Linked DNA regions of Homo sapiens. The main gene of each other region encodes a partner of the protein of the gene in region 2 in a complex. Each region holds a gene or a part of one and is shown on either strand. Other genes may lie near its edges. The genes, in order: STK3 and SAV1. A codon is read from its position in the direction of its gene.

Region 1 (4,853 bases), on a different chromosome or scaffold from region 2:
CCAATTATACAATTTATTATTATTTGTAAGGGCTCAACAGGGTAGAGACAAATGACACTTTGAGGCATTACCTAGGGTACAAATACCATTTTTAAAAAGGAATGGAAGCTTTCCAGAGACAATATACCTTCTGTGACAGACATTAGTGAACTCATCAGCTTTTCCTGTTCTCTCCCCTCCAGCTACGTGGTGATGCTACTCTTCCTGACTCCCTCGAAGTTAGGAGTGTCCATGTGACTAATTCTGAATACTGGGTTGTGGCCAACCAGACATGTATCACTACTGGCTGGAGCTAGTATGAAACTCTCCAGCTCCCCTTCTCCTTATTGTGGTGACCACAGATATCTCAGATGGTTGAGGCCCTGTCAGCAGGTCCCTGGGTGTGGATGATAGGAGCAGGGCGCCCTGCCAAACTGGGGTGGGCCTGGAGCAAGAGTGAGGAATAACCTGTATTATGTGAAGCCGCTGAAGGGTGAGGGTTGTCAGCACTGCATAATCTAGCCTGTCCTAACTAATATACGTCCCTTGCTTGGAAAATGCAGAGTCCAGGTCATGAGTTTTAACAAAGATACAGAAACGAAATATGCTGGGTGGCACAGTGAAATTTATTTGTCTTTATGATTTACACATAATAATTAAACACACAAAAGAAAAAACACTGTCAAGATGGCCATATGTAGCTTAGGAAATGACTGGTCCCAATGCAATCATATAAATGTTCATTCAGCGTAAAAATGAGTTTCTTTTTAATGGTTTTAATCTTTTTTTTTTCAGTCCCCAAGGCTTGTACCACTCAGTACAAATGTTTTTGCTACTGGGTTATCATCAGGAACATGATGTTTACCAATTCCCAGGAAATGAATAAAATCAACAGAAACATCCTGTGACAACAGAGCACATTTTCATAGAAATGAAATTGATGAGCTTATTACAGTTTGAATCAGTTCAGCTATTAGATCTACACATAAAACATGAAACAATATTAACAAATTACATTTGTATTAAGTTTTTATTTAAAAATATTTATCACACTTTTTTGTGCAAGGGTTCCATTGATTTCTTTGGTTTTAAACACGATAGATCTATTTTACCTAAATATATATAGTTCTATTTGTACCAAACATCAAAAATCAAAAAAACAAAATTTCAAAGGGTAAAAATGGAATTATTGCTTCAATATAAAAAAGGCCTAGCCCATTTGAGAACTACTGCCATTATTGCTTTCCTATTTGAAAAACTATCCTGGAAATCAAGGAATGTACCCCATAGCTCCCTGCAGAAAGTATAAATTGGTTGCACATTATCATCATATTAATATGACCCTACCTTCACCAAAGCTATCCTGATCTTGTCCTTAAAAAATGAAACAAAGCAAAATAGCATAAATAAATAAGTTTACCTAAGGGGATACAATAAATAGCCTAGTATACTAGATAGGAATAAAGAATATTGTAACATAAAGCCCTTCAGTGCTGTACAATGCAACAATAGCTTTGGATTTTCAAGGTTTAGAGACCTTGAAAATCCATTTCATAACAGTTTTATTACTGGTATGCAGCTGACAGAACAAGAGAATACACTTCTTTTGTTCTCCTCATCTTAGAGTGAATGCACAGCAGATACAACTGTCAATTCTGCCTTTTGGGAATTTACCTGGGCATGTACCATTGTCACTTTTTGACCTCTGCCTAATTGTAGGGCAAAATCTTAGGATTAAAAATATCCAAATATTCCTTCAATTCCTAGTGGTTTCTTGGTCTCCAGAATAGTTAAAAACAGAGAGGAAATTAGACTCAAAAGTTTTGCTGCCTTCTTTTCTTTGCATCCATCGCATCCAGAATGGGCTGTCTTTTCGCAGTGTATCTCTGACGAAGTTCTTCTATCTCCCGTTCCATCATGGGGTCCAGTGCTTTTAACCGCATCTGTAGTTCTTCTAAACTTAGATTTTTCAACTAGATACAGAAAGAAAGATACCAATACAATGAAATTATCCACATTATCCACAATCAATACAATGAAATTAGACTTTAATGTCTAATGAGTTTTAACATAAATATTTCAGCAAATTCTTTACATCATCTTTGAAGTATAGTTCAACAATTAAAACAGGAATTTCTTCCTTGAAGAACTCAGAGGTCATATCTTGCAAGAACCTCCAGTAATCTGCAATGAAGCAATCCGATCCTCTGCCTTTAATAAAGGGCAAATGAGAAAAATACGCTGATGGAATTTGTAAAAAGGTACAAAGACAAATCCACCACTGCCAACAAACAGATTTTCAGAATATGTTCCAGGTATATTCACTCTAACTTTTTACATCTTTGCCAGCTACTGAGTGCTACAATAATCATGAACACTTGCAGAGATCACTCAAGAATGTGACAAGACTGAATAAAGGTTAAATTAACCATTCTATCCTCCATTTTACTAAATGCTTAATAAAGAAGATGACTGTGGTAGGGGGCGGGAAGTAAGGCTGAATAGGCCTGGTGGGGCCCCAAAAGCAGGAAGCCATGATCAATTCTGGAGTAGGACAGTTATGTAAGAGTAATCCAGATTTGGTTTTCTTTTCTTCTTCTTCTTCTTCTTATTTTTTTTGACACAAGGTCTCAAACTTCTGGGCTCAAGAGATCCTCCTGCCTTGACCTCCTCAGTAGCTGGGATGTGCCACTGCACCCAGCTCAGGCTTGGTTTTAAAATGATAAAACTTGCAACTTACTTTTTGTTTTAAGAAGATAATTGCCTTTGGTTATTTTATGAGTCAAGCTAGGAAAAATACTCATTACTTATAGTCATCCAAAGTAGCATTTCTCAGCAGATCCTTTTACTCGCCATCCCTGGCCCTATCGTGACTTCTGCTTCCAAAAACCAAATTCACTCTTAGCTGAAAAAGACTCTGAGGATACTGAAAAGAATGAGTCATAGACTCTCTGAAGGAAATTCAAAAAAGGAGTTCCAAAAATATTTTGAGAAATGACAGTGTTATGGAGAAGAGTATGCAGGCTTCCATGATGATGACTTTGAAGGTGAATGCCACTCACTTCGGTGCATAAGAAGTTCTGGTATGTATATTAATAATCAGCCCTGTTATTTTGTAGTCATATGTCATGAAAGAACCTAGCTTTTAATATTATGCCATAAAACATACATTTATATATCATATGTAGTATTATACACTTTCTTCATTGATTTTTAATCCAAGTAGTGATCTTGCATCTGTTACATGCTCAGTGCTGTTCAAATCACTGTGGAGATACAGAATAAGACAAACAGGGAAACTCCAAACTTTGAACTGTACACATCGGTAATGGCCACATTGAAAGGCCAATGTATACCACACAACCACATTTCCCAAGAAAGACATGCCCAACTATGTCTATGTAGGATCCAGTTCCACTTCTGTGTTCTTCAACATCATCTCTATTTCAGCCCATGTTAATCTTTCCCATTTCTAAATTTCTATGTAACACTCATAATTTAAACAACACAATTTAGTATTTGATTCTAAATCATGTACTATTTTATAATTGATTTTTATGCATGAGTTTCATGTCCCTAGATATTCCAAAAAATACTTAGACTTTAGAGACTGTACATACACCAAGAAACTATCCTACTATACTGCAAATAACATGACGTAAACGTAGATAGATAAATATGAATAAGAATATATGACCCAAAGGAGTGGGTTACTCTAAGATCAGAAGAACTAACATATTATATAAAGCAAACAATTATCATTACTTTAATTCTGAATTAAGATATTCCTGTAAATATCTTGTACTACTTTTACTGGGGCAAACTGCCAATAGGTTTATAAATATTGTATTGCAGTAATAGACTGAACTCAGAAAAAGAAGCTACTTAGAAGAAAAATTTTCTTCCTTTAACAGATTTTTATATTATCAATGCGTAAAATTTGTGAAAAACAGGTCTGTGATATTAGAGAAACATTATCTAACATTATTAAGGAATTAGGTGTTCATGTAAGTAAATTAATGAAGTACCTAAATCTTAGTTCTTTAAGTGATAAAACTTTGTCTCAATATCACATACACACACATATACACACACACACACACACACATGTGCACACACACATGTATTTACATATGCTCTTTTTTGGTTCTATGTGACTTTTAGGATTTTTTTCTAATTTTGTGAAAAATGATGTTGGTATTTTGATAGGAAATGCACTGAATCTGTAGACTGCTTTGGGCAGTAAGGTCTTTTTCATAATATTGATTCTTCCAATCCATGAGCATGGGATGTATTTCCATTTGTGTCATGCATGATTTCTTTCAACAGTGTTTTGTAGTTCTCCCTGTAGGGATCTTTTACCTTCTTGGCTAAGTATATTCCTAGGTAATTTATTGCTATTACTATTATTATTATTAATTATTTTACAGCTATTGTAAAAGGGGTTGAGTTCTTGATTTGATTCTCAGCTTGGTCACTGTTGGTATATAATAGTGCTACTGATTTGTACCACTGATTTTGTAACCTAAGACTTTACTGATATGGTTTGGCTGTGTCCCCACCCAAATCTCATCATGAATTGTAATCCTCATAATCCCCATGTGTCTAGGGAGACACCTGGTGGGAGGTGATTGGATCATGGGGGCAGTTTCCCTCCATGCTGTTCTAGTGATAGTGAGTGAGTTCTCACAATATCTGATGGTTTTATAAGGGGCCCTTCCTTCTTCAATCTCACTCTGCTCTCCCCTCTCACCACGTGAGAAGGTCCAGGCTTGCTTCACCTTCACCTTCCACCATGATTGTAAATTTCCTGAGGCCTCCCCAGTCACATGGAACTGTGAATCAATACACCTCTTTCCTTTGTAAATTACCCA
Region 2 (7,297 bases):
AAAACAGCACAAAGAATTACTGGCTATATTTATTAAACAGAAATGGGATGTTTTGTTCAGTCCCAATTTTCACTTTCTTGTCTAGTAATAGCAAGAAACAGAACATACAATCATGTCTGAAATAGAATAAACAGCAAAATGTTATAATTCAATTGTACATTCTGACTTAGGGGGTAGGTCTGTTATTATTTGTAAAAATTTAAGTGTAAGAAGGCAGAAGCTTTAATTATTTAATTTTCTGGACACCTATAACAAAAACATTCTGGCATTACTACAGCAGAATCTGATCATAAGAACAATGATCTTGTTTTTGAGGTTTTTTTAAAGAGAAAAGTATTTTTTTAACTTATTAAAGTCATTTATTACTAAATGTATGTCCAGAGAAAAATGTAAATTTTGAAATATAAGGCTTTCAAATCTCAAGCTTTAGGATGCTATTCTCTTAGATGAAAATATCAGTTCAAAACCTAACATTAGACAATCCCGAAACAAAAAGTTGAAAATAAAGTTGATACTGTACCTAGGAGCACAGGGATGCCTGTATTGGGCCTTCTTATTTGTGTGATCTACATAATAGGTTCCAAATTCGGATGACTCAACTCGTTCCCATCCAGGAGGAAGTCCTTCTCGCTCAAGAGGATGGCTCCAGTGAGTTGTATTTGTGTTATGATCTATATAATATTTTCTCCCTCTCATTGTCCAGTCCACAGACCAGCCAGGAGGAAGGGGTAAATCTTCAGAACCATGGTTAGTCAAATTTCCTAAAGATGTAGCAGCAACTCTCCCAATACCTACGGGGAAAGAGAAAATGATAGAGAAGAAACAGAACAATTATTCAATGCAAAAAATGTGCCAGCTAGCAAAGTCACAACATTAACTATCCTGATTGTACTCTTCTATTTAAATTCATGATTATGCCCATTATGATGGTTTTCATAAAACTAGTCGGTATTACTATTAAGGAATTATAAAAAGGGGGAGGAACTAGACTTTGAAATTAGTAGAGGGTTTTTTGGCTGATGCTTCCATCAACAGGCCATACAAACACTTAACAACAGGTTGAGCATCCCTAATCCAAAAATCTGAAATTTGAAATGCTCCAAAATCCAAAACTTCGAGAGCTGACATGTTGCCACAAGCAGAAAATTCCACACCTGACCTTATGTGATGAGTCATAGTCAAAATTCAGTCAAAACTTTGTTTTATGCACAAAATTATTTAAAATATTATGTAAAATTACCTTCAGGCTATGTGTAGAAGGTATATATGAAATATAAATGAATTTCATGTTCAGATTTGGGATCTCTTCCCAAGATATCTTATTATGTACATACAAATATTCCAAAATAAAAAAAAAAATCCAAAATCTCAAACACTTCTGGTCCTAAGCATTTTGGGGTAAGGGATAATCAACCTGTGGCAGTAAAGCTACTTAAGTATGTATACTGCCAAAAGAAAAGTGGGAAAAAGAAAATTTCCCCTGATTAAAGATTTGACATTTCAGCTTTAAAAAAAATGTAAAAATGAACTTGTAAAACCATTCCCGGTTATAAATTCTTAAAAGTAATCTGGCTGTGCCCTAGAATTATTAAGTAAGCTTAAGGTAGCAGGGTTAAGGTCACCATACAAAAATTAATATTTATATATTAACAAACAACAACTGGAAACAAAAGTTATTGAGATAATATAATTTATAATAGCTCCAAAGAATTGTGCAGGACCAATATGCTAAAAACTACAAAACACTGATGAAAGAAATAAAAAACCTATCACATTAACGGATTGGAAGATTCGACATAAAGTTAAGATGTCAATTCTCCTGAAATTATCTTTATCTTTATAGGAGTCCCCCCCTTATCCATGGGGGATCCATTCCAAGACCTCCCGTAGATGCCTGAAACTGCAGATAGTACCTAACCCTGTGTATGCTGTGTATTTTCCTATACATACGTATCTATGATGAAGTTTAACTTATAAATTAGGCACAGTAAGGGATTAACAAAAATAAAATTGAACAATTATTATAATAAAAACTGGGTGAATGTAATCTCTCTCCCTCTCTCTTGAAAGATCTTGTACCATATTCATCAATTTTCAGACTGCAGTTGCAGAGGTAACTGAAACTGTGGAAAGCAAAACCATGGATAAAGCGAGACTACTGTCATTCCAATAAAAATTCCGGCCGAGCGCAGTGGCTCACGCCTGTAATCCGAGCACTTTGGGAGGCCAAGGTGAGCGGATCACCTGAGGTCCGGAGTTTGAGACCAGCCTGACCAACATGGTGAAACCCCGTCTCTATTAAAAACACAAAAATTAGCCGGGCGTGGTGGCGGACGCCTGTAATCCCAGCTACTCGGGAGGCTGAGGCAGGAGAATTGCTTGAACCCGAGAGCAGAGGTTGCAGTGAGCTGAGAACGCGCCATTACACTCCATCCTGGGCGACGAGAGTGAAACTCTGTCTCAAAAAAAAAAAAAAAAAAAAATTCCATGGAGTTTTTGTAGATACAGATAGTTATTAAACAGATTTTAAAATGTATACTGAAAGGCAAAAGAGAACTAGAGTAGCCAAAACAATTTTTTTGAAAAAGGGATAAAGTTGAAGGACTCACACTACCTGATTTTTAAGGCTTACTATAAAGCTACATTAATCAAGACAGTATGGTATTGTCAGAAGAACAGACAAATAGATAAATGGAACCAAACAGAGAATCCAGAAGAACACCCACACAGACATGGTCAACTGATTTTTTTATAAAGGTGAAAGGGCAATAGCGGGGAAAGGTTTTTCCAACAAATGATGTTGCAACAACTGGACATCCATATGCAAAAAACCTAATCACAACCTATACCTGCCACCTTACATACAAATTAACTAAAAATAGATCATATATCTAAATTTAAAACTATAACGCTTTTACAAGAAAAAAATAGAATAAATTTTCATGAGTTTAGTTTAGACAAAGAGTACTTTTTTTTACCATGATGCTGAAAGTTCAACTCATAAAGAAAAAATACTGATTAAATTGAACTCTGTCAAGATTAAAAACGCTTGTGAAGGACACTAAGAGAAAGAAAATCAAGCTGTAAACAGGGAGAAAATGTTTGCAAATCACATTATTAGCCAAAGAACTCTGACCTAGAATATACAAAGAATTCTCAAAACTCAACATTAAGAAAACAACCCTGAGCCTGCTGCAGTGACACGCACCTGTAGTTCAACCTACTCAGGAAGCTGAGTAGGAGGGTTACTTGAGCCCAAGATTTCAGGTCTGTAGCACACTATCATCATGCCTGTGAACAGCTACGGCACTCCGGTCTGTGCAACAGAGTGAAACCCCTTCTCTCAAAACAAAAACAGAAGAAGAAAACAAAACGACCCAGTTAAAAAAAAGGGGGGTAAGAATTTTTAACAGGCACTTCACCGAAGACAACATATTGATGGTAAATAGCACGTGAAAAAATGCTCAGGATCATAATTAGCCGTGAGAGAAATGCAAATTAAAACCATAATGAAATGACAATACACGTCTATGAAAATGGCCAAAAAACCAAACAAAACCTGACAATGCAAGTGCTTACATGGATACAGAACAATTGGAATGCCCATACACTGCTGGTGTGGATGCAAAATGCTACAGTCACTCTGGAGAACAGCTTAGCAATTTCTTATAAAGTTAAACATATGCTTTTCATATGCTACAGCAATCCCATTCCCAAATATTTACCCTAGAGAAATGAGAAGTCATCTTCACACAAAATCCCATTTGTGGATATTTACAATGACTGTATTCATATTTGCCCCAAAGTGGAAATGACACACATGTCCTTTAACAGAATGGATAAACAAACTGTGGTGCAACTGTACAGTGAAATCTACTCAGGAATAAAATGGAACTAATTATTGGTACATGCAAGAATCTCAAAGATGAATCTCAGAAGTATCATGCTGAGGGAAAGCAGCCAGTCTCAAGTGGCTACAAATTGTACAGTTCCATTTTTATGAGATTCTTCCAAACACAAAACTACTAGGACAGAAAACAGTGATTGCTAGGAACTGGAGGTGAGGGACAGGAGTTGACTATAAGAGGACAACCTAAGGGAATTTTAGAGGGTGTTTGAAATGTTCTGTATTCTCATTACACAGGCATTACATGAAATCTATACATATGTTAATACTCAGAACTGTGTAACTTGAAAAAAGTTAAATTTACTATACTTTTTAAAAGAATAATCTGGCTGCATAATTTTATTCTCACACAAGAATACTAATAGTTGGCCGGGTGCGGTGGCTCATGCCTGTAATCCCAGCACTTTGGGAGGCCGAGGCGGGCAGATCATGAGGTCAGGAGATCGAGACCATCCTGGCTAACACGGTGAAACCCCATCTCTACTAAAAATACAAAAATTAGCTGGGCGTGGTGGCGGGCGCCTGTAGTCCCAGCTACTTGGGAGGCTGAGACAGGAGAATGGCGTGAACCCGGGAGGCGGAGGTTGCAGTGAGCCGAGATTGCGCCACTGCACTCCAGCCTGGGCGACGGAGCAAGACTCCGTCTCAAAAAAAAAAAGAATACTAATAGCATATGTATAACAAATCACCCCGAAACTCAGTGGCTTAAAACAAGAAGTATTTATTTGGTTCACCACAGGTTGGTGATACTGGCTGAGCTCAGTAAGTTTTTTCCTTGATATTTGGTACAAGTTATCTTTACTGTCTCATTACTTGATGAAAGTTATCTCTTGTATAACTTTCAATATGAAGCCCTACTGATGATCAGACCTCCATTTCTTCTCTGACTTAAGCTGCTATTTTTTTTACCCTTAGCTCACTCTGTTCCAGCTACACTCACCTCCTGGATGCTGTTCTCAAACACGGCAGGTACTGGCTGTTTATTCTCCCTAGAAGATTCTTCCTTCAGATATTCTCTTGGCTCACTCTCACCCTCTTCAAGCCTCTTCTCAAATGTTTCAATGAAGCTTATTCTTACTATGGCAGTCTACATCTGCTGAGCTTCTACTTACCGTTTTACTTTTTTAAAAAGCACTTTAACCTTTTAACTTATGTAATTTTAGTTTGTTTATTTACCTACAAGAATCCCACAAAGAAGATTCTTAGGACAGGAATCTTTGTTTTGTTCACAGATACATCTCCAGTCTCTAGAACAGTGTCTACAGAATAAAGCACATAGTAAGTGTTAAATAAATAAGCTGCAGTAATAAAGACAGTGTAGTATTAGTGGAGGAGATACACACATCAATGAGACAGAAACTGCATAAATATTTTCCTTGATTTTTGGACTTATTTTGCCTCTTTCACTCCCATATTTTACTAGTTCTGAAACGAAGGTGTTTTTTATAATCAAGAGAGTAAATCTGTTAGCCACTAGGCAGCAAATACAGATGTATTATCATTGCTGGTGCATGTTCTAACACAGTCCTAGGAAGACAGTATGTGGTTCATACTATTATTAATCCTCATTATTTGTAACAGTTGCACCCCAGACAAAATTTTAACATAAATTTGAATCCCTGTGCCTGAAAGGTACAAGGATACAGCATTTAAATGAAAAGTTAGTGTGTTAACAGAAGACTGCCAGTCAACCCAAGGCCCTAACTGCCAAATTTAGAATATCTCAGAATGGTCAAAATAAGAAAGACTGGGTGACCATTGAGGTGTGAAGGAGTACCATGCCAGAGCAAAACATCTACTAGTCAAAAGTTCCCAGCTGACTTTGAAGAGCTTTTAAAATTACAGTTGGCTGGAAACTAAGGCAAAATGAAAACATCAAGTTTACCTTTAAAGAAAGGCAAATGAAACAGACCCCAGTGACAAAAGGTAATTTAGAAGAAACTTTAAAATTAAGGTAAATGCTTCAATTCAAACTCAGATTCTAAAGAAGGATATGTAAGTGTATGGATAAATACGGGTTATTGGCATGTGGTTTAAGAAACTGTTTTTATTTAAATACAACATACAATGCATATGCATAAGGCTAGTCACTGCAGCAACATCTATAGTTGCAAAAGGCTAGAAATCAACCAAATGTCCAATAATAGCAAACTGGATGATTACACTATTACACGCACAGAACAGAGTACTATATTATATAGCTGTAAACATGAATGAAGATGATTTCTATTTATTGCCCTGGAATAATATTCGGGATGTATTATGTGAAAAAAGAGTCTGGACAGTACACCACCATATATACATATATGTAGTAGCCAGCCAGTAAGGTGAACCTGGGCCCCAATTATCCCTGTCCTCCTGGGATTCACACCCTTGTCTGTGTGACCAATAGTTTATGGCAGAAAGGATGGTGTGTGACTTCTGAGATTAGGATATAAAAGACCGTGCAGCTTCTGCCTTGGTCAAGTGTACTTGCTCTCTCATCACTCACCCTGGGGGAAACCAGATACCATATCATGAGAAGCCCATGAGTGAGGAATTGAGGCCTTCAGCCAGAACTGAAGCCTCCTGTTAACAGCCTTGTGAGTGAACTTAGAAGCGGATCTTTTGGCCGGGCGCAGTGGCTCACACCTGTAATCCCAGCACTTTGGGAGGCCAAGGTGGATGGACCACCTGATGTCAGAAGTTTGAGACCAGCCGGGCCAAGACGACAAAACCCTATCTCTACTAAAATTACAAATAATTAGCTGGGCGTGGCGGCACATGCCTGTAGTCCCAGCTACTCAGGAGGCTGAGGCAGGAGAACACTTGAACCTGGGAGATGGAGGATGCAGTGAGCCGAGAGCGCGCCACTGCACTCAAGCCTGAGCAACAGAGAGAGACTCTGTCTCCAAAAAAAAAAAAAGAAAGAAAGAAATGGATCTTTCAGCCAGAGCGAAGCTTCGGATAACTGCAGCCCCAGCTGACGTGTGTGAACTCCAACTTCATGAGAGATCCTGAGTCAGAATGACCTGGCTAAGCCGCTTCCAAAATCCTGAACCACAGAAACTGAGATAATAAATGTTTATTGTTTTATGCCAATGAGTTTGGAAGTAATGTGTTTTACAGCTACAGAAACCTAACACAATACATATGAAAGAGAATAATATGAATACATATTTTACATATATATGTAATTTGTATCTATTTTCATAAAGTGTTGCAATGAAATATGTAACAAAAATTAATAAAATTGGGTATTTACAGGGGGAGGAAGGAAATGGGGTGGAAGAGGACAGGGGTAGAATTAATTTTCTAAATGCATTCTGTTTTATCATTTTGATTTTGCAACCTTTTAAATATCCTATGTAACTTACAACAAAATTAAATCAAAATTTAGAAAAAGCAATC

The links.
Region 1: the proteins of SAV1 (region 2) and STK3 are in contact, whole or in part, in a crystal structure (PDB 6AO5), measured with the Homo sapiens proteins. Residues at the interface, in NP_068590.1 of Homo sapiens: Tyr311, Ala312, Arg313, Ala314, Pro315, Asp319, Trp324, Glu325, Phe327, Gln328, Leu329, Leu332, Asp333, Gln336, Leu339, Lys340, Leu342, Phe343, Glu346, Leu347, Ile350, Val351, Met353, Tyr354, Ala356, Tyr357, Arg358, Ala360, Leu361, Leu362; in NP_006272.2 of Homo sapiens: Trp429, Lys430, Val431, Pro432, Gln433, Gly435, Phe437, Phe439, Leu440 (codon at 1,952), Lys441 (codon at 1,949), Asn442 (codon at 1,946), Leu443 (codon at 1,943), Ser444 (codon at 1,940), Leu445 (codon at 1,937), Leu448 (codon at 1,928), Gln449 (codon at 1,925), Arg451 (codon at 1,919), Leu452 (codon at 1,916), Leu455 (codon at 1,907), Asp456 (codon at 1,904), Met458 (codon at 1,898), Met459 (codon at 1,895), Glu462 (codon at 1,886), Ile463 (codon at 1,883), Leu466 (codon at 1,874), Arg467 (codon at 1,871), Arg469 (codon at 1,865), Tyr470 (codon at 1,862), Ala472 (codon at 1,856), Lys473 (codon at 1,853).

Annotation. Positions count from the first base shown.
Region 1 is NC_000008.11:98,454,049-98,458,901, forward strand, and holds the end of STK3 (serine/threonine-protein kinase 3), read right to left. Parts: intron 3,246-4,853; coding exon of another isoform or gene 3,243-3,245; exon of another isoform or gene 2,191-3,242; coding exon of another isoform or gene 2,137-2,190; exon of another isoform or gene 1,953-2,136; coding exon 1,794-1,952; 3' UTR 585-1,793; downstream 1-584. UniProt on the Homo sapiens protein: Stress-activated, pro-apoptotic kinase which, following caspase-cleavage, enters the nucleus and induces chromatin condensation followed by internucleosomal DNA fragmentation.
Region 2 is NC_000014.9:50,644,224-50,651,520, forward strand, and holds part of SAV1 (protein salvador homolog 1), read right to left. Parts: intron 5,167-7,297; coding exon of another isoform or gene 5,084-5,166; intron 792-5,083; coding exon 521-791; intron 1-520. UniProt on the Homo sapiens protein: Regulator of STK3/MST2 and STK4/MST1 in the Hippo signaling pathway which plays a pivotal role in organ size control and tumor suppression by restricting proliferation and promoting apoptosis.